Linked DNA regions of Homo sapiens: regions 1, 3, 4, 5 and 6 are each linked to region 2. The links come from fine-mapping of genetic effects on gene expression. A gene starts in region 2. Each other region holds a variant in brackets. All regions are shown on one strand. Distances are between the middles of the regions.

What was found. PIP is the estimated chance that this variant, and not a neighbour inherited with it, causes the effect.
Region 1: its variant is the best candidate, but not a certain one, in a credible set for the expression of MOGS in prostate (GTEx, PIP 0.52).
Region 3: its variant is the best candidate, but not a certain one, in a credible set for the expression of MOGS in thyroid (GTEx, PIP 0.57).
Region 4: its variant is the best candidate, but not a certain one, in a credible set for the expression of MOGS in CD4 T cells (BLUEPRINT, PIP 0.58).
Region 5: its variant is the best candidate, but not a certain one, in a credible set for the expression of MOGS in lung (TOPMed, PIP 0.53).
Region 6: its variant is the best candidate, but not a certain one, in a credible set for the expression of MOGS in liver (GTEx, PIP 0.63).

Annotation. Positions count from the first base shown.
Region 1 is chr2:74,268,331-74,272,330 of GRCh38, forward strand. All of the region lies in intron 8 of SLC4A5 (solute carrier family 4 member 5), which reads right to left. Among named protein-coding and RNA genes, the nearest start is that of MTHFD2, 72 kb to the left of the region's middle. The variant A/G (reference allele first, on the strand shown) is at 1,996.
Region 2 is chr2:74,462,861-74,466,965 of GRCh38, forward strand. MOGS (mannosyl-oligosaccharide glucosidase) reads right to left here and starts at 2,522. Exons shown (of 4, transcript NM_006302.3): 1 at 2,036-2,522; 2 at 1,636-1,862; 3 at 330-526; 4 at 1-152. The coding sequence starts at 2,387. RefSeq lists a silencer at 2,089-2,308.
Region 3 is chr2:74,410,998-74,415,102 of GRCh38, forward strand. C2orf81 (chromosome 2 open reading frame 81) reads right to left here. Exons shown (of 3, transcript NM_001316764.3): 3 at 3,180-4,105. The coding sequence ends at 3,332. Among named protein-coding and RNA genes, the nearest start is that of C2orf81, 8.6 kb to the right of the region's middle. The variant T/A (reference allele first, on the strand shown) is at 2,121.
Region 4 is chr2:74,161,843-74,165,947 of GRCh38, forward strand. It overlaps MOB1A (MOB kinase activator 1A), which reads right to left. Exons shown (of 6, transcript NM_018221.5): 4 at 3,376-3,509. Among named protein-coding and RNA genes, the nearest start is that of MOB1A, 15 kb to the right of the region's middle. The variant C/T (reference allele first, on the strand shown) is at 1,626.
Region 5 is chr2:74,643,303-74,647,407 of GRCh38, forward strand. The region is part of intron 1 of M1AP (meiosis 1 associated protein); the gene reads right to left. Among named protein-coding and RNA genes, the nearest start is that of M1AP, 3.0 kb to the right of the region's middle. The variant A/C (reference allele first, on the strand shown) is at 1,849.
Region 6 is chr2:74,435,533-74,439,637 of GRCh38, forward strand. The region is part of intron 1 of RTKN (rhotekin); the gene reads right to left. Among named protein-coding and RNA genes, the nearest start is that of RTKN, 4.4 kb to the right of the region's middle. RefSeq lists enhancers at 1,042-1,721, 3,856-4,105. The variant C/T (reference allele first, on the strand shown) is at 1,808.

The DNA.
Region 1 (4,000 bases), 190 kb before region 2:
CTCCTCGTGCATGCATGCACATATGCCTGTGTTTGCATTAACTGTACATTAATGGCACCACAAGGACCTTAAGGGTATAGTATCTAATGGACATCCTTTCATCTCTATTAGTATTAACATCATTCTGAAGTCCTTCTAGTATTCCACTGTCTGAATGTACCATAATTGATAGGAACAGTTCTCAACTGGTAGACATTCAGATTATTTCTAATTATTCTTTATTATTAATTAAGGCTGGTTGGAACATCCTTGGTTCCTGCTCCACAATTTCTTTAGGATAAACTCTCAGAAGTGGAATTACTGTGTCTGCACATTTTTACATTTATAACAAGCATTACCAAACTGTTTTCCAGAAAGCTTATGTCAGTGCCCACTGCCACCAATGAGATCTTACATTTCCCTAAAGTCTCCCAGACTTTGGTATTTTCATTCTTTTTCACCTTTGTTCATTTGGTAGTTGAAAAATTATCTCACATTTGCACTCTTCTGATTACTAGTGAGATTGAACATCTTTTCCTTCATCAGATTTCCTCTTCACGTAACTGTATATTTTGCATTATCTATGTTTAACACCTTCATTCCATACATTTATTTGAGACAAGTTAACCAGGCACCTGGTGGGATCCTGGGGAATCAGATGGACACAGAATGGGGAGATCTAATTAGAGAAGGACTGGGAGGTGAAGACCTGAAACATGGGGGCTGGAGCCAGAGACCAGGCAGACAAGTTGTAGCTGACCTTTTTGTGGAGAAATCTGTTTGGGAAATATCATTTAAATTATGGCAGATCCAAGACTATGTGATATCGAAAGTAAGATGTTTCTAAAAGGTATATTAACATAAGAGTTTACAAGGAATAGACCAAAGGATAAGTTCAAAATTTTTTTTTTTTTGAGACGGAGTTTCACTCTCATCGCCCAGGCTGGAGTGCAATGGTGCAAGCTTGGCTCACTGCAACCTCTGCCTCCGTGGTTCAAGTGATCTCCTGTTTCAGCCTCCTGAGTAGCTGGGATTACAGGTGCCTGCCACCAGGCCCGGCTGTTTGTTTTTTGTTTGTTTGTTTGTTTGTTTGTTTGTTTTTTAGTAGAGACAGGGTTTCATTATGTTGGTCAGGCTGGTCTCAAATTCCTGACCTCAGGTGGTCCACCCACCTCCGCCTCTAAAAGTGCTGGGATTACAGGCGTGAGCCACCGCGCCCGGCCAGTCCAAATGTTTTAGTTGAGAGGATGCTCAACTTTTCTTCCTGAGGATCGACCTCCTATTCAGCTTGCCTTTTATTGTTTTTTTTTTCTCAAAAATAATACAAAAGATAAACTGAACTGTCACCCTGCTCCCAAAGACTCTTTTGCTACTCCATGGTCTTACCCACCCACCTAAAGGTGTGATGTGGCCCAGTGCATGGGGCCAGTTGAGTGGGTTGCTGTCTTCACTGTCTCACAAACATCCTAGGCCAGACAGTCTCAGGCAGCTCTCTCCCCTGACATCCCATTCTTCAGTCTTCTGCCCATACAAATGCAACTCCACCTGAAGGAGTGATAAGAGCAATGCTTCCTCTTTGAAACATCCTCTACTAACTCCAGATAGCAGATAGCAAAGACATGCAGTCCTCTCCACCTCTCAGGACTTCAACTATTTGTACTGTGTTAGGCATACACCAAACATTAACCCCATAGACACACAGACAAGGGCGATAACCCACATGAGAATAGCCTGCATAAACACTAAATTACTTGTCTCCAATTTTAAGCCAATGCCAGAACTAGACTCTGCTACCAGAATCCAGAAAATTTGATTTAAGAAATTCCGGAATATGAGACCATTTAACTAGGGACACCGCTCTAGTCCCCTCTATAACTATTTTGGGAATCCAGATGTTGAACCATTAAGCTTGCTACCTGGAACTTAATTTTGTGTTTTCAATGGCTACAGCTAGAAATTTAGCTCACTTTCACCTTGAATGGAAAAGGAAACATGGAGGACCAAAGATCCATAGCA[A/G]TGGTTTTCAACCTTGGCTGTCCATTAGAATAACTTGGAGAGATTTATAAAAATACCAATGCCTGGGGCTGGGCGCGGTGGCTCATGCCTGTAATCCCAGCACTTTGGGAGGCAGAGGCAGGCGGATCACGAGGTCAGGAGATCGAGACCATCCTGGCTAACATGGTGAAACCCTGTCTCTACTAAAAATACAAAAAATTAGCCAGGCGTGGTGGCAGGCGCTTGTAGTCCCAGCTACTCAGGAGGCTGAGGCAGGAGAATGGCGTGAACCCGGGAGGCGGAGCTTGCAGTGAGCAGAGATCATGCCACTGCACTCCAACCTGGATGACAGAGCGAGACTCCGTCTCAAAACAAAACAAAACAAAACAAAAACCAATGCCTGGATGGTTACCCCACCAGGAGGGTGACCCTGCCATGGAAACTCCCGGGTTATCTGACTGCACCCTGTGGGTTCAGGAGCCCCTGCTCTGTAGGTACATAGAATGGTGTGACTTAGGGATAGTTCAACTTATATGGGGTCCCAACGCAGGCAAACGTAGCTCACATGGATCTGATTCTCATTATACAGCAGGACATGGCCTCTTTCCCTTAGAATGGCTCCAAGAACACTAGCTGAAAGGGTCTCCTTTCTAGCACAGTCATGCTATGCTTTAGTTTCTCTGATTTTATAACTGAAGTCCATTTACAGTACATATTCTACTACACCAGTGTGCCTCAAACTCTAATGTGCATGGGGATCTTGTCAAAATGCAGATCCTCATTGAGCAGGTCTGGAATGAGGTCAAAGATTCTACATTTCTAATAAGCTCCTAGGTGTGCTCATGCTGCTGGTCTGCAGATCACCTCTGAGATCATGTAGAATGTCCTCTTTCCTCTCTGTTTTCCACTGCCCAGCGAGAATGCCCCTTCCTCCACAAAGCCTCTGCCAGTTATTCTGCTTATTTCTCCTATAACACCCTAGGATGGTTCTCAACCTGAAGCACTTTAGAAACCACTGTTCTAGGACAGTGATTCTTAAGCTTGCTTGCATATAAGAATACCCTAGATGCCTTTAAAATCTTCATGTCTCAGTCATATCCTAGACCAGTTGACATCAGAATAAAAACGGGTGGGATCCAGGCAACTCTGTGCTCCAGACTATCCTAGGTAAAGTTTCTAACTTCTTAGGCTCAGAGCCTAAAATAATTAATTAATTCAGGCTCAGTGCCTAAATTAATAATTAATTGTAGCCAATCATGTTTTATGATTGTTTTGGTATATAACAAATGCCAAATATACATTAAGCTTTTTGAAGACAGGTGCCATTTCTTCCTCTCTGGTGTCCCCTTATGGTCTCCTGCCCAGATCAATTGCATTAAATGCTTGCTCCCTTCTGCTTGAGGGTAGCAAGACCTCACTGATCACTTTGGGTGAGATCTCGCTATGAGGAAATGACTGGGGAAAAAAAGCTTAAAACTCATTTTGTTTAAGTATATTTAAAAATACTCAGAAGCCGGGCATGGTGGCTCACACTTGTAATCCCAGCGCTCTGGGAGGCTGAGGTGGGAGGATTGCTTGAGACCTGCCTGAGAAACAAAGCAAGACTCCACTATACAAAAAATAAAATAATTAGCCAGGTGTGGTGGCATATGCCTGTAGTCCCAGCTACTCAGGAGGCTGAGGTAGGAGGATTAAGTCCAGGAGTTTGAGGCTGCAGTGAGCTGTGATCGCACCACTGCAATGAAGCTGAAGTGACAGAGAAAGACCCTATCTCTAAAAAGAAAGAAAGAGGCCTTATCTTTTAGAGACATAATGAAATATTTACAGATGGAATGATGTGGTGTCTGGGATTTGTGTCAACCTGACCTAGCATGTGTGTCTGTGTGTCTGGGGTAGTAGGTGGGGGACAGAGAAACAAGAATTGCTATGAGTTAGCTGTTAACTGTTGAAGCTGGGTGATGGGCAGGTGGGGGTTCATTCTGCTATATACTACTTTTGTATAAATTTGAATTTTCCATAATAAAAT
Region 2 (4,105 bases):
CTCTGTCCTCCCACTTCAGGGATCCTGGCAAGCCGAGGTAGCGTTCAGGGGGGGCCCCTGGGGGCCGATGCTGAAACCAGCTATTTAGGCGACTCTTTACCATCTCTGTCAGCAGGGGCAGTCCTGGGTTGGAGGTCCAGAAGACATTGTAGCTTGAAGGGGAGAAGATAAATAGGAAATATTATTCAAGAGAAGGCAGTGGGCATTATAAAGAGAAATACAAAGTGTTCAGGAGTCAGGTTGGGAGGTCTCAGGCAGGGGACATGGAGACTGGTGAAAATGGGAATAACCACCCCTTCCATCCCCCAACATTCTTTTCCCCCAGTTACCTGCCATACTTGGGGGCTGTATCCCCTGGACTGGTTGGTGGCAAAAGTGTAAAGCGGAAGTCACCAAGTTCACTGGTGTGCCCACTGATAAACTTCAACTGCCCCTTGGCCCCAACCTCTGGTAGTAGGACTTCCTTGCCATCTGTCACCACATAGAAGAACAGGGAGACCAAAGGGAGGGCAGAAGTACCTGAGTCCTGAGTGACCAACGAGGACAGAAAAGAACAGTGTTAGATTGGCATTCTCTCTTGAATTCCCTCTTGAGAATCAGCCTTAGTGAGGGAAAGGAACAGTAGGCAGGGGTAATGTAAACAACATACGTCTGGCAGTAATGAGGGTCACTGAGGGTAACCAGGTACACCCAAGCGGGATGAGATAAAGAGCCTTGCACTGGGTGCCCTGGGAGATAACAGTATACTTTTGTACTATGTCCTACACTAAGAACTCTACACAGTTGATTTCATTTAATTCTTTTTTTTTTTTTTTTTTTTTGAGGCGGAGTCTCGCTCTGTCGCCCAGGCTGGAGTGCAGTGGCGCGATCTCAGCTCACTGCAAGCTCCGCCTCCCAGGTTCACGCCATTCTCCTGCCTCAGCCTCCCGAGTAGCTGCGACAATAGGCGCCCGCCACCACGCCCAGCTAATTTTTTGTATTTTTAGTAGAGACCGGGTTTCACCGTGTTAGCCAGGATGGTCTCCATCTCCTGACCTCATGATCCGCCCGCCTCAGCCTCCCAAAGTGCTGGGATTACAGGCGTGAGCCACCGCGCCTGGCTTTTTTTTTTTTCTTGAGATGGAGTTTTGCTCTTGTTGCCCAGGCTGGAGTGCAATGGCACGATCTCGGCTCAGCGCAACCTCCACCTCCCTGGTTCAAGCAATTCTCCTGCCTCAGCCTCCCAAGTAGCTTGGATCACAGGCATGCGCCACCACGCCCGGCTAATTTTATATTTTCAGTAGAGACGGTGTTTCTCCATTTTGGTCAGGCTGGTCTGGAACTCCTGACCTCAGGTGATCCGCCAGCCTCGGCCTCCCAAAGTACTGGGATTACAGGCGTGAGCCACCGCGCCCAGCCTCTTTTTCATTTAATTCTTACAGTCCTGTGAGTTAAGTGCTATTATTATCTACATTGTACATTTTACAAGCAAGGAAATCAAGGCTTAGAGATGGTAAATAGAAATGGTTATACAGGCAGTTGTTTAAGGCAGGATTTAAGCCAGGCAGCCAGAGCCCACTTCATGCTGCATTTGCTGGCAGCAAGGGAAGGATGGAGGGGGTCTGGGCTGAGAAAAGGGTGTCCTGAGGCCCTGACCTGAGGCTCTACAGTCACTCTCCAGCTCCAGTCCCCTCCGTGCTGACCCCCAGGCCTCTTGACGAACTCAGTGGTGAGCCTTAAGGCCCCATCCTGGATGTGTTGGCGCCCGAAGGAGAGGCCGTCGTGGAACTCCCAGCCATAGGGACCCACACCGTCCCCCTGCTCACACGTGTGCCTGAGCTTAGGAGTCCCCGGGGTGGTGCCCTGCTGCGCCCACATCAGTCCTGGGGGTAGAATGGCCACGTAAGTCAAAGAGCAGGGGACCTGTCCCTCCGGGTCTCCGGGTCATCCCTCTTCATAACTCTCCTGATCCATTCCTTCCCACCCTTGCTCTCGCTTCAAGCTGGGGCGCCCAGATTAGGAGTCCGCCTGCCTGCCCGCCCTGGGGCCCGGTTACCGGTGAGGAGGGGCTTCGGGCTGCGGGTCTTCATGCCGAAGTAGACGTGAGGGCGGTAGGTTCCCCAGAAGAGGTCCGGGGCCACGGCGGGGCTGGAGGAGTCGGCAGGCAACACAGGAGGCGCGGAGTGCAGCGTGACCGCCCGCCGCGCACGGTACCACGCCAGCACCCAGCGCCCCGACATACCCAGGGCCAAAGACAGGACCACGACGGCCAGAGCCACTCCTCCAGCCGTGCTACGCGGCCCGCCGCCCCGGCCGTCCCGTCGCCCGGGGCCTCCCCGAGCCGCCCTCTCGGCTGTCCGCACTCCCTCTGCCGGCACTGCGCGGCGCCGCCGCTCGCCCCGAGCCATCCTGGCACTGAGGTCCGCGTCACAAGAGCTCGGAGAGGCGGCAGTGGAGCCCGGGTCCTGCCTCACCTCTCCGGCTCCCGCCTCTCGCCCTGGCGACCACCGTCCGGTTAGCGACACCTGCCAGCCAGCGCCTGCGCCTCCGCCTCCGCCTCCCGCCGGAAGTCCCGCCCCGCCACGTTAGGTTAAGTCCCAGAGTCCGGAACCGCTGCCTGCGGCTTGACACAGGGTTGGTACGTAGCGTCTGTCCTGGGCGTTGGTCCACCGGGATTGCGTTTATCTGGCGACCCCATGGAGTTCACAGGCTCGGAAAAACCAATCTAACGTTGGGCTGAGGCATGAGAATCGTTTGAACCCGGGAGGCGGAGGTTGCAGTGAGCCGAGATTGTGCCACTGCACTCCAGCCTGGGCGACAGAGCGAGACTTCGTCTCAAAAAAAAAAAAAAAAGACTGATGTGGCCAGGCACCGAGGCGCACATCTGTAATCCCAGCACTTTGGGAGGCCGAGGCAGGTGGATCACCAGACATGAGGAGTTGGAGACCAGCCTGGTCAACTTGGTGAAACCCCATCTCTACTAAAAATACAAAAATTAGCCGGGTGTGGTGGTGGGTGCCTGTAATCCCAGCTATTCGGGAGGCTGAGGCAGGAGAATTGCTTGAACCTGGGAGGCGGAGGTTGCAGTGAGCCGATATTGCGCCATTGCACTCCAGCTTGGGCAACAAGAGTGAAACTGTTTCAAAAAAAAAGAAAGAGAGAGAGAGAGAGAGATGGAGGGAGGGAGGGAGGGACGGAGGGAGAGAGAGAGAGAGAGAGAGAGACTGATGCTTTATGCAACACGACCACTTATATTTCACTATAATCTGACTGGTGGCCCCACTCTCCACTAGTGGTAGACTTTTTGCTTATGAAATCATCTGACCAAACCCAATGGTTAGTCCTGTTTTTGTCTTTCTTGCTACCGTTGCATTTGTCGACATCCTTATTGTAGCACTTATTACATACCTGTTTCATTTTTCATCTTTGTATCACAGTACTAATCAATTATAGGCATAAGGCAGATGCTAAATATTTATAAATTCAACACATGTTTATTGTACACCCTATATCGCATTATGCAAGGTGCTGGGGACTCAGAGAAAATGGCCCCAACCTCAAGTTCACAGTCTAGAAGCACAATGCCAGCACTCAATGCATGTTGAACCATACCCATTTTTTTTTTTTTTTTTTTTTTGAGACGGAGTCTCGCTCTGTCACCAGGCTGGAGTGCAATGGCATGATCTCGGCTCACTGCAACCTCTGCCTCCAGGGTTCAAGTGATTCTCCTGCCTCAGCCTCACGAGTAGCTGGGATTACAGGTGCCCACCACCACGCCCAGCTAATTTTTGTATTTTTAGTAGAGATGGAGTTTCACCAGGTTTGCCAGGCTGGTCTCGAACTCCTGACCTCAGGTGATCCACCCACCTCGGCCTCCCAAAGTGCTGGGATTACAGGCGTGAGCCACCGCGCCTGGCCAGACCACCCCCATTTTTACAGATGAGGAGAGTAGTTAAGACTGACCCAAAATAACAGCCAGTTAATTATGGAGCTGGGGAACTCAAATCCAGGTTGTTCTTTTGACTTTAGAATAAGGCCTCTTAGGGCAGGCGCAGTGGCTCAAGCCTGTAGTCCCAGCACTTTGGGAGGCAAAGGCGGGCGGATCACCTGAGGCTGGGAGTTCGAG
Region 3 (4,105 bases), 52 kb before region 2:
AGCCCCATAAATAGGGGTGACTGGGGGAGGTGAAGGTTGGGGAAAGATCCACAGCAGAGGTGATATCTGTGCTGCGTCTTGGCAGGTGAACTAAAGTTAGCCAGGCCAACATGATGAGAAAGGATATTCCAGATAGAAGGAACCGTATGTGCAAAAACACAGCCAGAGGGTGAAAAAAAACAGACCGTGGTCCAAGAGCTGCAGATTGTCTGGCTGGAGACTAGGAGGTGGGTTAAGGAAGGGCAAAAGGCAAGGCTCTTAGTCAGCAGAGGGTTTTTTTTTTTTTTTTGAGACAGAGTTTCACTCTTGTTGCCCAGGCTGGAGTGCAATGGCGCGGTCTTGGCTCACTGAAACCTCCACCTCTCGGGTTCAAGCAATTCTCCTGCCTCAGCCTCCCGAGTAGCTAGGATTACAGGCATGCACCACCACGCCCAGCTAATTTTGTATTTTTAGTAGAGACGGGGTTTCTCCATGTTGATCAGGCCGGTCTCAAACTCCCAACCTCAGGTGATTTGCCCACCTCAGCCTCTCAAAGTGCTGGGATTACAGGCATGAGCTACTGCACCCAGCCTAGCACACAGCCTTCTAAGTGTAGAGAAGGGGCTTAGAGTTCATCCTACAAAGGAGAGGTTACCTTCAAAGGATTTTAAGCAAGAAAGTGTCATGATGAAAGGTGATTACTCGATGTGGCAGTGGGGAGAATAGATTAGAGAAGATGAGACAGGAAAGAAGTTTAAGAAACTGTCACTAAGCAAGATGCAGATAGTGTCGTGACATGTTACAATTTGTGGAAAGGGACAAAAACAATCATACTTGCAGGTGCATAGAGTTTTGCCTTTGTTCACTTTCCAATTGGGATTAATTTAGTTGACTGCTAAAGGATACGTGAGACTCCGGCAACAGTAGTTGCCTCTCAGGAGGGGAACAGGTGGCTTATGTACCAGAAGAGAAAAATAGTTTAAAAAAAAAAACCCTCTGTATCCTTTTGTACACTTTCAATTTTGTACTTTGGATATGTATTACCTGACCAAAAGAAAAATTGCTTTTCTTTTAAGGAGGCTATCACATTGCAAGGGGATGAGTAATTAAAAAATAATAATAATAATAAAGGGGCTATTATACAATCTAGGAGAAAATGTCAGAGAGAATGTTCCTGCCACCCACTCCCCGAAACTTTCCCTGGAGGAGCCAAACTTTCTCAATCAGAAAGGGCCTCTTCAAAGGACTTAGGCCCAAGGCAGTAATGTATCAACTGTATCATCTGTATGGCCTACACCTCTGGCCGACCCTGAGAACAGAAACTGAGTCTTCTTGCTTTCTCTGTTTCTGGTGCCTAGTGTCCCCCTCAAGAAGCCTTCATTGCAAAAACTACTCTACTGGTCTGGCTAGAACTAGGGGATGGGAGAAGGAGGTCTGGGATCTCATATCCCCTTGCTGATTATATTTTGGGCTGAATGATTCTTCTATCAGCCTTCTAATACTGACTTGTGCCAGCTGGGCTTCCCTGATGTGTGACACAAAAAGTGTGTTGGGTCACCACTCAGCAAACAGCTGGGTGCCAAGAGGCAAGAGGTGGTCCTGGGAGACAGTTACTAGAATGCCAGGGGTATAGGGAAGAGGGCAGCACAGAAGGTGCCCATCCTTCCTTACCTTGGAGTAGATTTGTGAGCAGAAAGGGCCCAACATAGTTAGTGACAAAGGTGAGATCCAGGCCCCCTGGGGTAAGTGTCTTCGGAATCCTGGGAGGAAATGAAAACACTGGCATTGAGTGATAAAGGGACCACCTTGAGGGAGACAAGGTCTGGGAGGGACATATTACCTTCAGCAGAAATGCCACAGGGGCACATACATGTGAAGATGGGGGCAATGAAGTTTAAGGCTATAACTCAATGTCAGCTTTTTAGGGGAGGGTATGGATTAGTGTTTTGGCAAGATTGCATAGACTAGGCTTTGAGGATACCTGTTTTAGAGTTCCTGAGCTAGAAAGGAGACTGCAGAAACATGTTTGGAGAAGCAAGCCAGGCACATACCACTGACTCCAGCATTGTTTACCAGCAGATGTATCTCAGGATTCTCCTGTAGAAGCCTCCGGGCAAAGCTCCGAATAGAGGTCATGGAGC[T/A]AAGGTCCACCTCGCCAAGCAGGAGGCGGTTGCTGTTTGAGGCTGCTTGGATCTCAGCCAGGGCTTGCTGTCCACATTCCCTGCTCTGACAAGTAAGGATCACTTGGGCCCCACACCGAGCTAGGTCCTGGGATACAACCTTCCCGATGCCTGTGGGAGGACAACTTCGGCTGGGTGGTGACTACAGTGAACAAGGGACACTCTAGGGGAGGGACAAGGGTGTTGATAGTGGATGCTCCTCCCTGCCTTCCCTGTGAGAGTTGTTGGAGGCTGAGGCCCATAGTGAGGATTCAGGGTGGGAGGAGCACTCACCACTGTTGGCCCCAGTCACTATGGCTATTTTCCCAGTCAGATCTGTGGAGCAGCACTGGAGGTCCCAGGGATGAGACTTCTGCCAGAGCTGCACATGTAGTTGAAGAAGACCAGAATAAGGAAGACAGAGCCAGCGCCCCAGACCAGGATGCTGAGTGCAGCCCACAGCAACATAGCAGAAACTTCCTGGGCCTGCTGGGGAAATGCTGTAGGAGGAAGTGGGTGCAGGATAAATCTGGGCAGAGTGGAGACTAGCAATGAGGCAGGTGTGGAGCCTAAGATAAAATTTAAGGAGGCACTGACTCTTGAGTTTGTTCAATATACTGTTTGAGTTTGAGAGTTCCTCCTTAACTTCAAAAGTGAAATTTGGATTTGCAGTCTAAGGTGAAGTGACCAAGCTCCAGGGACCAGGGAAGCAAGAAATCAAGTTCTTCATATCTCGAATCACTCTGTGCTTATGCGGGGCCTTCTCCTTCCTCCCCTACTGAAAGGAGACTCGAAGTTCTCTCTACAGAGCCAGACCCGCTGGCAGCCCTTATGTCTACTCCTTTGGGGGACAGGGGTTTCTCTAGAATGCCTCTGCAATGGGGCAGCTTTGGCCCTAATGCAGGGTCTCCTAAGGGTGGCGAGAGGGTTATTTCCTGAACCCTGGTTCTATCTTCTTCTAGGCCTGCAGGATAACTGCTCCCCTTGGGGTTCAGTGAGAGGGTGGACACCCTTGGAAGAAACTGACAAGAGACATCAGACTAGTTCCTAAGGCAACTCAGGTGTTTATTTCTGGCTAGCAGAGGGAGGGACCAGTTACTACTGCCAGAGGCTCAGGGATCAGAGGGAGGCAGCAGGCTTAGAGGAGCGTGACCACACTTTGGGGGCTGAGTTCTTCATTAGCTGTGCTACGGTCACCTGGGCTTTGGGGCACCTGTCTGGATGGGATGTTGCTCAACGGGAGGAAAGGTGCTACCTTCTTTGTCCTCTTGTTCAGGCACACCAGAGCTGAGCAACACCTGGGTGCTCCGGTTCCACATGCTCACACCAGGGGCCAGCTTCAGGGCTTCTGGCAGCAACACGGGCTTCCACATCACCTGGGAAGTGGCTTCAAGGACCGGGGGTGTGGTTCGAGGCCATCTGCCAGGATCCTGGCCCTCCCTGTCTGCCAGCTCCAGACCCTGTGGAGGCACGCGGGTCCGGCCAGCCCACAGCTCGCCCAGCAGCTCGGCCTTCCCCTCCCAACCGCTGGGCCACCTGACACTGGGCCACAGCTTGGGGCTGCGGCTGCGGGCCACATCAGGGAGCACCGGGTGTGTGGTGAGGAAGCGGATCCTGGAGTTTGGGAGTGGCAGCTTTGACTCGAGGGATGGCGACGATAGGCCTAAATTTAAAGTGGGGAACAGGAGTGCGGGGCCCGAGTCCAAGTCACGGAAAGGAATGCCTGGCCGGAGAGGGAAGAACGCTGCCGGGGAGACACGGGTGCCGGGGCCGAGGGCTTGGGGTTCGGCCCGGGCCTTGGTCTTCTCGCCCCGCTGGCGTCCGCGGTAGGCTTCCAAGGGGCGTGTTTGAGAGTCTGGGACCAGGACCTCAGCCAGAGGGCGCACCCAGTGGCACGGGAGCCTCGCAGGGTCCAGGCGTTTCACGGCCGCCTTGCGGCGCATCCTGTGGTGGTGGGCGCTCAGCCG
Region 4 (4,105 bases), 300 kb before region 2:
GCTACTCAAGTGGCTGATGTAGAAGGACCACTTGCGCCTGGGAGGTCAAGTCCACAGTGAGCTGTAACTGCACCACTGCACTCTAGCCTGGGCAACAGAGTGAGAGTCTGTCTCAAAAAAAAAAGTAGATTTCAAAATCAAACATCTTTTTTTATCAGAATGTATAAATGGGCATCTTTCTAATAAAAGGATATTAATAATGTGCATATATTAGTAAAAAATTAATGATAAACAGTTCTGTCTGAGACTAAATAACTGGCAAAAGTAAGATGCAGATAATAGCCTAATGGCAGGGGAGTGGGATTAAGAGGTGGTGGATCAGAATGAATTATTTAAGAACAAGAAAGTGAGAAAAAAGCCAGGCATGGTGGCTCATGCCTGTAATTCCAGCACTTTGGGAGGCCAAAGTGGGTGAATCACTTGAGGTCAGGAGTTCGAGACCAGCCTGGCCAACATGGTGAAACCCTGTCTCTACCTAAAACTACAAAAACTAGCCAGGTGTGGTGGTGGGCGCCTGTAGTCCCAGCTACTTGGAGGCTGAGGCACGAGAATCGCTTCAACCCAGGAAGTGGAGGTTGCAGTAGAGCCGAGACTGTGCCACTGCCCTCCAGCCTGGGTGACAGAGTGAGACCCTGTCTCCAAACAAAAAAGAGAGAAAAGAGGATAAATCAAAAGAATTATTTACCTTCCATAAGCAGAGACTTTAATGAGTAAAGAAATAAGTAATTTGTTTAAATCTAAACACTTTCCAAGCTGAATTTAACAGATATATTCAAGCACAGTCAATATAAAATAAAGATATATGAGAAAGGAAATAAAAGGTTTAATAGCAGAATGGAAAAACTGACCAACAACAAACAGACCAAATGTTAACAACTTGGAAAAAAACTGTTGTCCTGAAAAGCCTCTATAAGACTGCAAAAAGGAATTCAAAAATATGTTGCTCATAAAATACTCTTAAGTTGAAAATGACAAGGAGTGATTTCATCCATGAATACTGATGCCAAACTCTTAATCAAAATATTAACAAATACTCTTCCAGCAGAATATTTTTATTAAAAAATGGAGAAAACCTTATGGTCATAGGCAACAGATACTGGAAAAGCATCTGATAAACTCTATAGCCATTCCTCGTTAAGAACAATTTTTGTAATATAAATGGTGGATATTTTTCATTAATATAATTTTTTAAAAATCCATACACCTCTAACCAAAAGCCAAGATTTCGGCTTACTGCAGAAATACTAGAAGTACTTGCATAATAGTAAGAAGGCAAGAAACGGATGTCTGCCATCATCACCATTACTCGGCATTGCGCTTGAAATACCACTCAGTGCAATCAGATAAGCAAGCGTAAAAACAAGAATACATTATCAGAAAGGAAGAGACAAAATGAACACTATCTTAATATGACACAGTTGTATACTTTAAAAATTCAAGAGAACCAACCAAAAACTAACAGAAAAAGAGTCTGATGGTTAATTATAAAATTTAAATAAAAATCAACAGCTGGCCAGTCCTGGTGGCTGACACCTGTAATTCCAACACTTTTGGAAGGCCAAGGAAGGAGGGATGCTTGAGCCCTGGAGTTCGAGACCAGCCTGGGCAACATAATGAGACCTCAT[C/T]TCTACAAAAAATAAACAAAATTAGCCAGGTGTAGTGGTGCGTGCCTACAGTCCCAGTTACTTGGGAAGCTAAGGTGGGAGGATCACTGGAGCCCAGGAGATCAAGGCTGCAGAGAGCTGTGATCACACCCCTGCACTCCAGGCTGGGGAACAGAGTGAGACCCTGTCTCAAAAAAAATTAAAAATAAATTACAATAAAAACCAACAGCTTTCCTATATACTAAATAACCAGCTGGAAACCAGATTATCAATAAAAGACATAAAATCCCTAGAATAAAATTAAGAAACTTGAACAACTGACATAAACTACAGAATTTTACAAGAGAAAATAAAGCTAAAGACATGAATAAATGAACAATATCTTGTTCTTGGCTAGGAAGATTCAGTAAAAAGAATCCCTATCTATAAAAATTAAATATAGTCATAATTAAAATCTAATTTTTTTTTCACCTTGACAAAATGTTTCTAAGTTCTTTGGAAAAACAAATATCCCAGAATAGCTGTGAATATTCTGAAAAAGAAGAGCGAGGAAGGGAGACCAGCCTTACAAGATGCTAACAGATGCAGAGCCACAGTCACCAACGTGTGGAATTTCTATAGGAACAGATAAAGAGACTAAAACATGCAAAAATATATGGCAATTTGTTGTGCACATAAGATAATCAGGGGAGAAAAGGCAAATGTGTTTAATAAATGGTAATGGGACAAACTGACTAGTATTTCCATTTGGAAAAAAATTAATGTAGCATTCAGGGAAAAAAAACTTCCCAGCCAGGCGTGGTGGCTCATGCCTGTAATCCCAACACTTTGGGATGCCAAGGCAGGTAGATCACTTGAGGTCAGGCGTTCAAGACCAGCCTGGCCAACATGGTGAAACCCCATCTCTACTAAAAATACAAAAATTAGCTGGGCATGGTGGCATGTGCCTGTAGTCCCAGCTACCCAGGGACTGAGGCATGAGAACTGCTTGAACCTGGGAGGTGGAGATTGCAGTGAGCCAAGATTGTGCCGCTGCACTCCAGCCTGGGCAACAGAGTGAGACTCTGTCTCAAAAAATAAAAAAATAAAAAAAGAAAACATGAATAAATATTTTTATAATCTTGAAGCAGGGAAAAGCTTTCTAATTGTTATATTAAAATCAAGTCATAAAAGATATAATAGGACAAAATAGTAAGGTTGTGTACAGCAAAAATACTCCATGAACAAAATGAGACAAAAGGTAACCCGGGGAAAAAGATATACAACACATACGACAAAGCGCTAATATCCTTTACACAGAAATAGATGAAAGATATAAACAGAAAACACACAATGATCAATAAAACAAACAAAAAGGCTAAAATGCTCAATCTCATCAACATTTTTTAAATGCATATTAAAACAGAAATTTAACCAAATTAGAAAATATTAAAAAATGAGTAATAACCAGTGTTGGTGAAGAAACACTGGCAAACACAAACAGGGCTGGGGGGAGTACATGTTGGTACAAACTTTTTGGAGGAGAATTTGGCAGTCTCTACAAGTATAACAATGTTAAAAAGAGCAGATTTATCATTCAAAAAGAGAAACAGGCTGGATACGGTGGCTCAAACCTGTAATCCCAGCACTGTGGGAGGCCAAGGCAGGAGGATCACTTGAGGCCAGGAGTTTGAGACCAACCTGGACAACACAGCAAACCCCCCCAACTCTATTTATATTAATAAAATAAAATTTTAAAAAAAGAAAGAATACTTCGACAATGTTAACTCACCAATCTTAGAAGGAAAAAGAGTTTCATCATCAAGCTGATCTTGAACCCAAGTCATCAAATAGTCAATGTATTTTGGTGCAGAACATTTGATTGGCTTTTTAATATTAGTACCATCTGCCCAGTGATATTCATATCTGAAGAGAAAAATGTTTTACTGATAAATTTTTCAAAAATATTAACAAATGTGCAAGTTGTGATTAAAACAGGTTCATTCACATTTTGTCAATAGAAGTTACATCTAACTTTAATAAATCACCTTAAGTTCTACTGAAGATTACTGTGAGTTCCCTATGTAATTATCCAGAAAGTGACAGTTATAACTGGAAGAAAAAAGGGAGATAATGTGGCAGGAGGCAATGCCAGGATAGATGTTTTATTAACAACACAGCCCTGGGAAACACAAAGGAACTGCATTCCTGTAAAGCAGAAGGTTGCTGAGGGCTGGGCATGGAGCCGATGGATCCACTACATTCTTCTGAGATTCTTGGTCATCAATTTATTATCATCAATGGACCCAAGATTATAAAACTCTGTTTTGGGGGCCAGGTGTTAGAGATATACATTAGGCATGCATACTTTCCCCCCTTACCTTTGCCGAGCTAGAAGGATTAACAAGAGTTATACAAAACATCACTGTGTAAAGCATTTGAGCCATAGGTAAGTTTAATTTTCCTGTTTATTTTCATTTCTTTTAAAGCTTGAATAATAAAACTTAACACAATATAAAATA
Region 5 (4,105 bases), 180 kb after region 2:
GAACTGCAGTTCCATGTGGCAACATGGATGATTCTAAGAAACATAATATTGAGTAAAAGCAGCAAGACACAAAGAATACATACACATGTAGCATGATTTCATCTACATTTTAAAAATAAGCAAAAGTAGTTATATTGTTTAGAGGTGCATACACAGTGATAAAATTATAAAGAAAAGCAAAGAATTGATTATCACAAAAATGAGGGTAGTGATTTTCCCTAGGAAAGAATGAAGGCATTATGATGAGAAGAGACAAAAGAAGGGGGTCCTGGGGTGTTGGTAATGTTCTTTTTTTTTTTTTTTTTTGAGACAGGGTCTCGCTCCATCGCCCAGGCTGGAGTGCAGCAGTGGCCCAATCTCAGCTCACTGCAACCTCCACCTCCCAGGCTCAAGTGATCCTCCCACCTCAGCCTCCTAAGTACCTGGCACTACAGGCATGCACCACAATGCCTCTCTAATTTGTGTGTTTTTTTGGTAGAGACAGGGTTTTGCCATGTTGCCCAGGCTGGTCTCAAACTCCTGGGCTCAAGCAATCCTCCCACCTTGGCCTCCCAAAGTACTGGGATTACAGGGATGAGCCACCACTTCCAGCCTAATGTTCTATTTCTTGATCTTTATTGTGGATATTGGGTATTCACTTTCTACTATTAAACTACACATTCATGTTTTATGACATTTTCTGTATATATGTTATATTTAATAATAAAAATATTTCAAGAAGAACATTAGGACAATCAAAAGAAAACAAAAGAAATATGATAAAAAAGATAGCTAAAAAATATGTCCCCACCTCTGAGAACTAAAATCATTCTATATAATTGTTTTTAGCTAAAGAATGTAGGGAAAATTAAAGCTTATTTGATTTCCCCTGTGACAATACAAAGATAATTATGATAATTTTCAGAAACACTTTGGAATTTAGAATCTTTAAAAATGATCTAAGAATACATAGATAGGCCGGGCGCAGTGGCTCACGCCTGTAATCCGAGCACTTTGAGAGGCTGAGGCGGGTGGATCTCAAGGTCAGGAGTTTGAGACCAGCCTGACCAACATGGTAAAACCCCATCTCTACTAAAAATACAAAAATTAGCCGGGCGTGGTAGCACGCGCTTGTAATCCCAGCTACTCAGGAGACTGAGGCAGGAGAATCGCTGGAACCCAGGAGGCGGAGGTTGCAGTGAGCCAAGATCGCGCCATTGCACTCCAGCCTGGGTGACAGCGCGAGACCCCGTCTCAAAAAAAAAAAAAAAAATACATAGATAGATGTATTTCCCCAAATGAATCAGTGAAGTTATTCTCTTCAAACTTCCCTTTTTGGATAGTGGAAGTCAGCATTTGTTCATTCAACATTTTTAAAAATTGAGTTCCAATTACGTGCTGGATACAGCTAGAAAAATAAATGAATTAATATGCTAATCTGTTGAAAGTCATCTTGAACCAGAAACCCAAATCAATTACTAATGTATTTACCAAGAAAGCACATAACATATTTTTAAACTGTACTTTAAGTACATGGGGCCAATTTCTACATGGAATGCTGAACTTGAAGCTGACACAGAGAAATTCACACAAACAGGTAGTCAGAGGCCTTATTTAATGTATAATTAAATTTAATTATCCATCTCCATCTCTCACATCTGAAAACGCCATTTTAAAGTAGAGGCAGGACAACCTGCTCAGGTCCCCTTCCACACTGTGGAAGCTTTGTTCTTTCGCTCTTTGCAATAAATCTTGCCGCTGCTCACTTTTTGGGTCCGCACTGCCTTTATGAGCTGTAATACTCACCGTGAAGGTCTGCAGCTTCGCTCCTGAGGCCAGGGAGACCACAAACCCACCGGGAGGAATGAA[A/C]AACTCCACACACGCCGCCTTAAGAGCTGTAACACTCACTGCAAAGGTCTGCAGCTTCACTCCTGAAGCCAGCGAGACCATGAATCCACCAGAAGGAAGAAACTCCAGACACATCCGAACATCAGAAGGAACAAACTCCGGACACACCATCTTTAAGAACTGTAACACCGCCAGGGTCCGCGGCTTCATTCTTGAAGTCAGCAAGACCAAGAACCCACCAATTCTGGACACAGTATTGCTGGGCCATAAGGCACGTATGAGTTTAGTTTTGATAGTGAGGTAGGAGGCGGGACTCAACTCTGCAGGAAGGGCTTGGACACCAGACCAAATTGAGGACTAGCTTAAACAGGGCGAGGGTGGAAGCAGCTTTCCATAAGACATGCCCACCAGTGTGCCCTGTCAGTTTACCATTGCCATGGCAACACTCAGAAGTTACCATCCCTTTCTATAGCAACGACTCTATGACCTGGAAGTTACCATGCTTTTCCTAGAAATTTCTGCATCAACTCCCCCTTAATTTGCATGTAATTAAAACTGGGTATAACTATGACTGCTGAACTACCTCTGAGCTGCTATTCTGGGCACACTGCCTATGGGGTAGCCCTGCTCCACAGTTGCAGTACCTCTGCTGCTGCTGTACACTGCTGCTTTAATAAAAGTTGCTGTTTAACATCACCAGCTCACCCTTGAAAAAAATAAAAATAAAAAAATAAAGTAGAGGCAGTCCTCATTTTGCATGGTTCAAGTATATAGATTTCAGTTACTACAGTTTAGTTAATTAACACTAGTCTTCCAACAACACAGTTCAAATTTCAGTTACCATGGAATATTAACTGTAATTACATAAAGTAGTATCTAGCTCTTTAGTTCACGAATTACTAGTTATCAGTATCAATAGTATAGTATACTGATATAGCGTACTGATATAATATAGTGATCAGTGCATCATGATCAGTAATTAATTATATCACTTCTTTCAAAGTCTGTTGGTGACCCGTCACTGCAGATCCATTAGTCAGTTAAAGCACAGACAGAAGTGTGTAGTTGTGTCGCCTCCTTGTCTCCTAGTGATAAGCCCATGTGATGTTTTATAAAAACAAAAACTGAAAGAGGAAACTAGCCGATAAAAGGAGCAGCAAAGAAATAAAAAATGATAATGCCAGGAGTGAAATCTGAATCTAACATAAGTGGAGTTAAAGGAGAAACAGCTGACTATGAGAGTGTTGACACTGCCTCCACCTGATAGACTCTAGAGAAGCAGCCAGAGGAATTTAGTGAAGGCAAACTTATCAACATACTTGAGGAAAGTCATTGTGATGAAAAGGATGAAGACATCCTACAGAAAGGGCCACTGGCAAAAAGCTTCATTATTAAAGAAACTTTCAGAGATATTTTACAAAATTGAAGGTACAAAGGATAAAATGTAGGAAACTAACCCAAACTTAGAAAGAAGTATGTCAGTTTGCCAAGACACACAAAAAATGTTTGCTCTCTCATAAGTTTTACTATGAGAGTTTTTTTTCAACAAATAAAACACTTTAGCTCTCAATGTTTCTAATGTTTTAAGTTAGTGTATGAAATAGTTTTACTGTTTTACATTTCCCTATACAGTTAGTAAGAAAGTTTTAGTGTTTTGACAATTTTTCAAGGTTATAGAACAACTGTAATTTTTCCCATTGGTGTTTAAGATCTCTTTGAATGGTTTCAGCTTGCAGTCATTTTTCAATCCCACACTAATGTGCAATTGGAAGACTGTATTTTAAATGAGGTAAGAGGCAGCTCTCTTCCTTACATCCTCAAACATCATCAATTCATGCATCTGATGTGTCTGGGCATAGTACTAAACAGGCTCTGACCTTATTCTGACCCTATACTCTCCACTTTTGCCAAGAACACTCGCTTAATGAATTCTCCCTGCAAACTGGTTAAAACTGGAACTGGGCCTTGAACCACTCCAAACCACCAAGTTATGCCCAAACTAAAAACCCTCCAAGGACTTCCAATTACACCACTGGAAACAGAATCCAATATCTTTACCCTGGCCCTAAAGTTCTGCTTGTGCCTTCTGCCCAACTCTCCATCCTCACACTAGGCCCTCCCCTGCCCGCACCCCGGGAGATCCACCTCTCACAGATCGGCTTCTCGCTGTGTCTGCCTCTGCGGATGTTCTGTTCCGTGCTGAGCATTCTAGGTTAGGGCCCCTTTACAAGCCCTCATTCACTTTGTCGCGTGATAAACGATTCAATGGTTCTCCCTC
Region 6 (4,105 bases), 27 kb before region 2:
TTAATGGCTGCTCCATAAGTGCCATGTCATGGCACAACCATGCTCACAAGAAACAGCCTCTGTTTGCTTCTGGCTGAGGTGATCAAGGAAAGCTTCAGAGAGGAGTTGGAAGACTAACTCTATCACAGTGTACAGATTGGTTCAGGAGACAAGTCGAGCCATCCATTTGAAACAGGGGAACTAATGTGACCACTCCAAACCTGTCTTTTTCCTCACACCAGCTCTCCTCCATACACTGTGCCCTTGCATCTGTCCCTAGTGGCTCCAGCCTTCAAGTCTCTCAGACCCGAACACCCTAAATTCCCTCTTCTAAAAAGCCTTGTCCTGCCTGCCTACAGATGCTTCCTTGGCTATTTTCTGGGCCACTGTGCTAGGCCGGACTTTTATCACCTTCCCCCATCACCATCCACCCGTTTTCCTTCTGTAATAAGCCAACCCTTTCCCAAAGCCCCTCACCAGGAAGCCCTTTCAGACTACATAGGTCCTCCCAGTCTAGTTTTGTCTGCACCAGGGTTCTGCGCTGCCCGACAACCCCCACCCCAGTCTGCACCCAGCTTCAGCCACAAACATCCCAAATGGGTGAGCCTGGCAGGAGGGGGACACGGAGGTGTCCTCAACCCCCATCTTGGCTAGTCTCATCCCAGTCCCAGCACTCACGGATCCTTCCCCAGCCCGCTCCATTGCGAGAGGCGCGCAGAGGCGCGCGAGGTCCAGAGAGCTGCACTGGCCTGGGGAGCCGGCTGGGTCCGAGGGCCGCGGGAAATCGGAGGAGCCAGGGCGCCAGCATAGCTGCACCGCCTCCAGCTGCAGCGCTCAGGACGCCGGTGACATCAGCTCCCAATTGCCGCGAGAGCAACTGAGGGGTACCAGGGCGCTGGAGGTCCCTCCGGGCACCTGGCTGGGCTTGGCTCAAGGCGGTGCCTCCACCGAGACTCCATCGCGGCGGGACCGGACCTCCAGGAGTGCGCCCGCGCCGCCCTGGAAAAGGCTCCTGGCCTTCACGACGTGCTCCAGCTCCGGGAGGCCCCTCCCGCGTAGCGTTTGCCCTCCAAGGTGACCCCTTGCCTGAGAGTATGGAGGGCGAATAGTGTATAAATTGGGAGAGCTGGGGCCCTAGGGAGGTCACTGGGCCCAGCATGGATGAGTGGGACCACGAGTCCAGACACCTCCTCTATTTCCCTACTGATCTCCAGCCCCAAATCCACTCTCCCAAGGCCCAAGGCCGGGAGCGCCCTAGGAAACTGGCTCCCACCCTTTCAGGCAGAGGAACTGGGAATCCTGGCTCAGGATCTGGACCCTTGTGCTTCTAGCGTTTCCCCAACCCAGGGATAGTTCCTTGTTGCCCCCTCCCCACCCAAACACACCCTCTCCCCAAGCGGGCAGCATTTCCCCTGGGAAAGAGCGCAGAGCTGGGTGTCAGCTGGACCCGGGTCAGATCCCAAGGGGCTAGAGGATGAGTCATGGGCCCCACACACATTAGGCCCCCTGTTGATATCCCTTCCACCCCTCCCACTCTCTTAAGTCTCTGACTTCCTGCTCTGCTTCTCACTACCCTTTTTTCCCTTCAGAATCTCCACCAGGGCTAAGTACAAATCCTGGTTTAGGGACTTGACAAGCCCACAGAATTTGACCCCTGGAACCTGAGTTTGTAAAATGGGGAGTATTCCACCTCCTTCGTAGCATTGTTTGAGAATTATATGGGAAAGTCTCATCTCTACCTGGGCCTAGCACATATTTTAAAATAAGCCCCCTTTACTTGCAACTTGAGTCACTTCCTCCAGAAAGTCTTCTTGGATTTACTCTTCCA[C/T]GACTATCTCTTTTGCCATTCCCTGAAACATCAATGGGTCTCTCTTTTGAGGACCTGCTGAACTTGGTTGAGAAAGAACACAGCACCCTCAGCCACTCTCCTAAAGGAGAGTGACCAAAGTGAAACTAAGCATCTCCTCTGCCCCAGAACTTGAACAGGCCTTCCACAGAGAAAATTTACATTTTTTGGAGGAGGGTAGGATGCAGAATTTAAACATTTACATACCTAGACCAGCTCTGTCCAATAAAACCTTCTGCGGTGATGGAAATGTTCAGTAGCCATCTAGCACTTGAAATATGGCTACAGCAACTAAGGAATTAATGTTTTGTTTTATTTTAATGAACTAAAAGTAAGATTTAAATAGCCATATGTAACTGATGTGGACAGTGCAGAGGACTATGAATGGCAAATAGGTTTTATCTCATGCACTGATGGAGGATAATTAGGTAGAGTCCCAACGAGTTCACTGGACACCTTTCCACAAATTAGAAAAAGCTGACCCTCTCCAGGCAAACAAATTAGATAAACGTGCTCCCTCCTGATGCCGCTGAAACCAGACCAGGACTCTCACCTCTGGCTGGCACCTGTGTGAAGGACACAACCTGCACAGTTTATGCCAAGACGGTCCTGAGAAAGATTCTGAGGCCAGGTCTGGGCTCGTTGATAAAGAGTGCCAAAATTGACCAGTAACATCTACTATGATCCAGGGAGTGGGGGCAGGGCTTGAGGGGGGACAGCACATACAATATCCTGCCATTCCTGATCTAGACTCTTTGCAGTCCTGCCTCTGACCTCTCAGCAGCAGCCCCTGCCTGGTCCAGGCAGTCACTTCCACAACTTCCTCCATCTTCCCCATCTCCGTAAACAGCCACACCACCCAGTTGCTTAGCCACATACCTGGGAATCATCCTGGAGTTCTCTTTCTTTGCCCTCCCATCCAATCCATCAGCAAATCCTGTCAGACCTACCACCACCATTTGAAATCTACTCCCTTTCTCCACCATGAGCATTTTAATTCACACCACCAGGTTCACTCCCACCTGAAGTGGGAGTGAAACAGCCTCCCACCTGGTGGACATTTGCGAACTCTCTTGCCAACCCTCCACCCCCAACCCTACCCTCAACTTCCCACCAGCCTATTCTCCATAGCAGCCATCATTTAAAAACATGGCATGAGTCATTCCCTTGCTTAAAACCCTTCCATGGCCCAACATCACACTTAAGGTGAAATCCAGGTGCCTTATCATGGCCTTCAAGGCCCTGCATGATCTGGCCCCTGCCCATCAGCTCCACCCCAACTACTATATTCCAGCCACACTGGCTCTCTCTTTCCCACAAATATATTACCCTCATCCTCATATCAGGGCCTTTGCCCTTCCTCCAGTCTTCACATATCTCCAAATCCTCCTGGGCTTAGCTCAAAGATCTCCCAACAGAGGCTTCCCCTGACCTCCACATCTAACATTGCCTCCCTCATCTGATTTTCATTACATCCCCATTTTCATCATAATTTCTTTATGTGATATTATTTATGTGTTCGTATGTATATTTCTGTTCTCCCACTACAATGGAACTTTCTTGTCTTATTCACTGAGGTATCCTATGGTCGAAAAGAGCTTGGCAGATAGTACATAAAATTTACATGTGTTTAATAATACATAGCGCAAGGTGCAGTGGCTCACGCCTGTAATCTCGGCATTTTGGGAGGTCGAGGTAGGGAGATCACTTGAGCCAGGACCAGCCTGGGCAATATAGTGAGACCTCGTCTCTGTAAAGAATTGAAAAAAACAAATACACGAATAAACAGCACCTTGCTGTCTCAAGGGCCAGCAGAATCCTTACTCATAGCCCAGAGTCCTTCTCTTCTCTAGCAAGGCTACATCCTTTCTGTAAACCTCTCTCACATTGAACTCCTCTCTTCTTCCCATGCCTAAAAGGAACCCTTGTCCCCAGAACAGACATTTACACTCACCCACAGAGCTTCCTGAAATAGGTGTAAAGACCCTGCTGCAAACATAAGACTATGATGGGCAGAACTGAGCCTGGGTCCACACACTGCACCCAACACAAGGCATAGGGAACCACCTGTCCCTCTTCCCACTTTAAGCAGGCCTGGCTCTCCCCACCATGCTGTAGCAGGAATGGGCAGGGCAGAGATTGGGGCTGGGATGCAAGTGAAGGAGGTGTGTACTCCAAGGGTCGGGGGATTACCTCCAGGCTGAGTGCCATCTGCCGAATGTAGAGCATATTCAGGTCCTCCAGGATGTGCAATCTGTCCTGCATCTCTGTGCCCCCCGG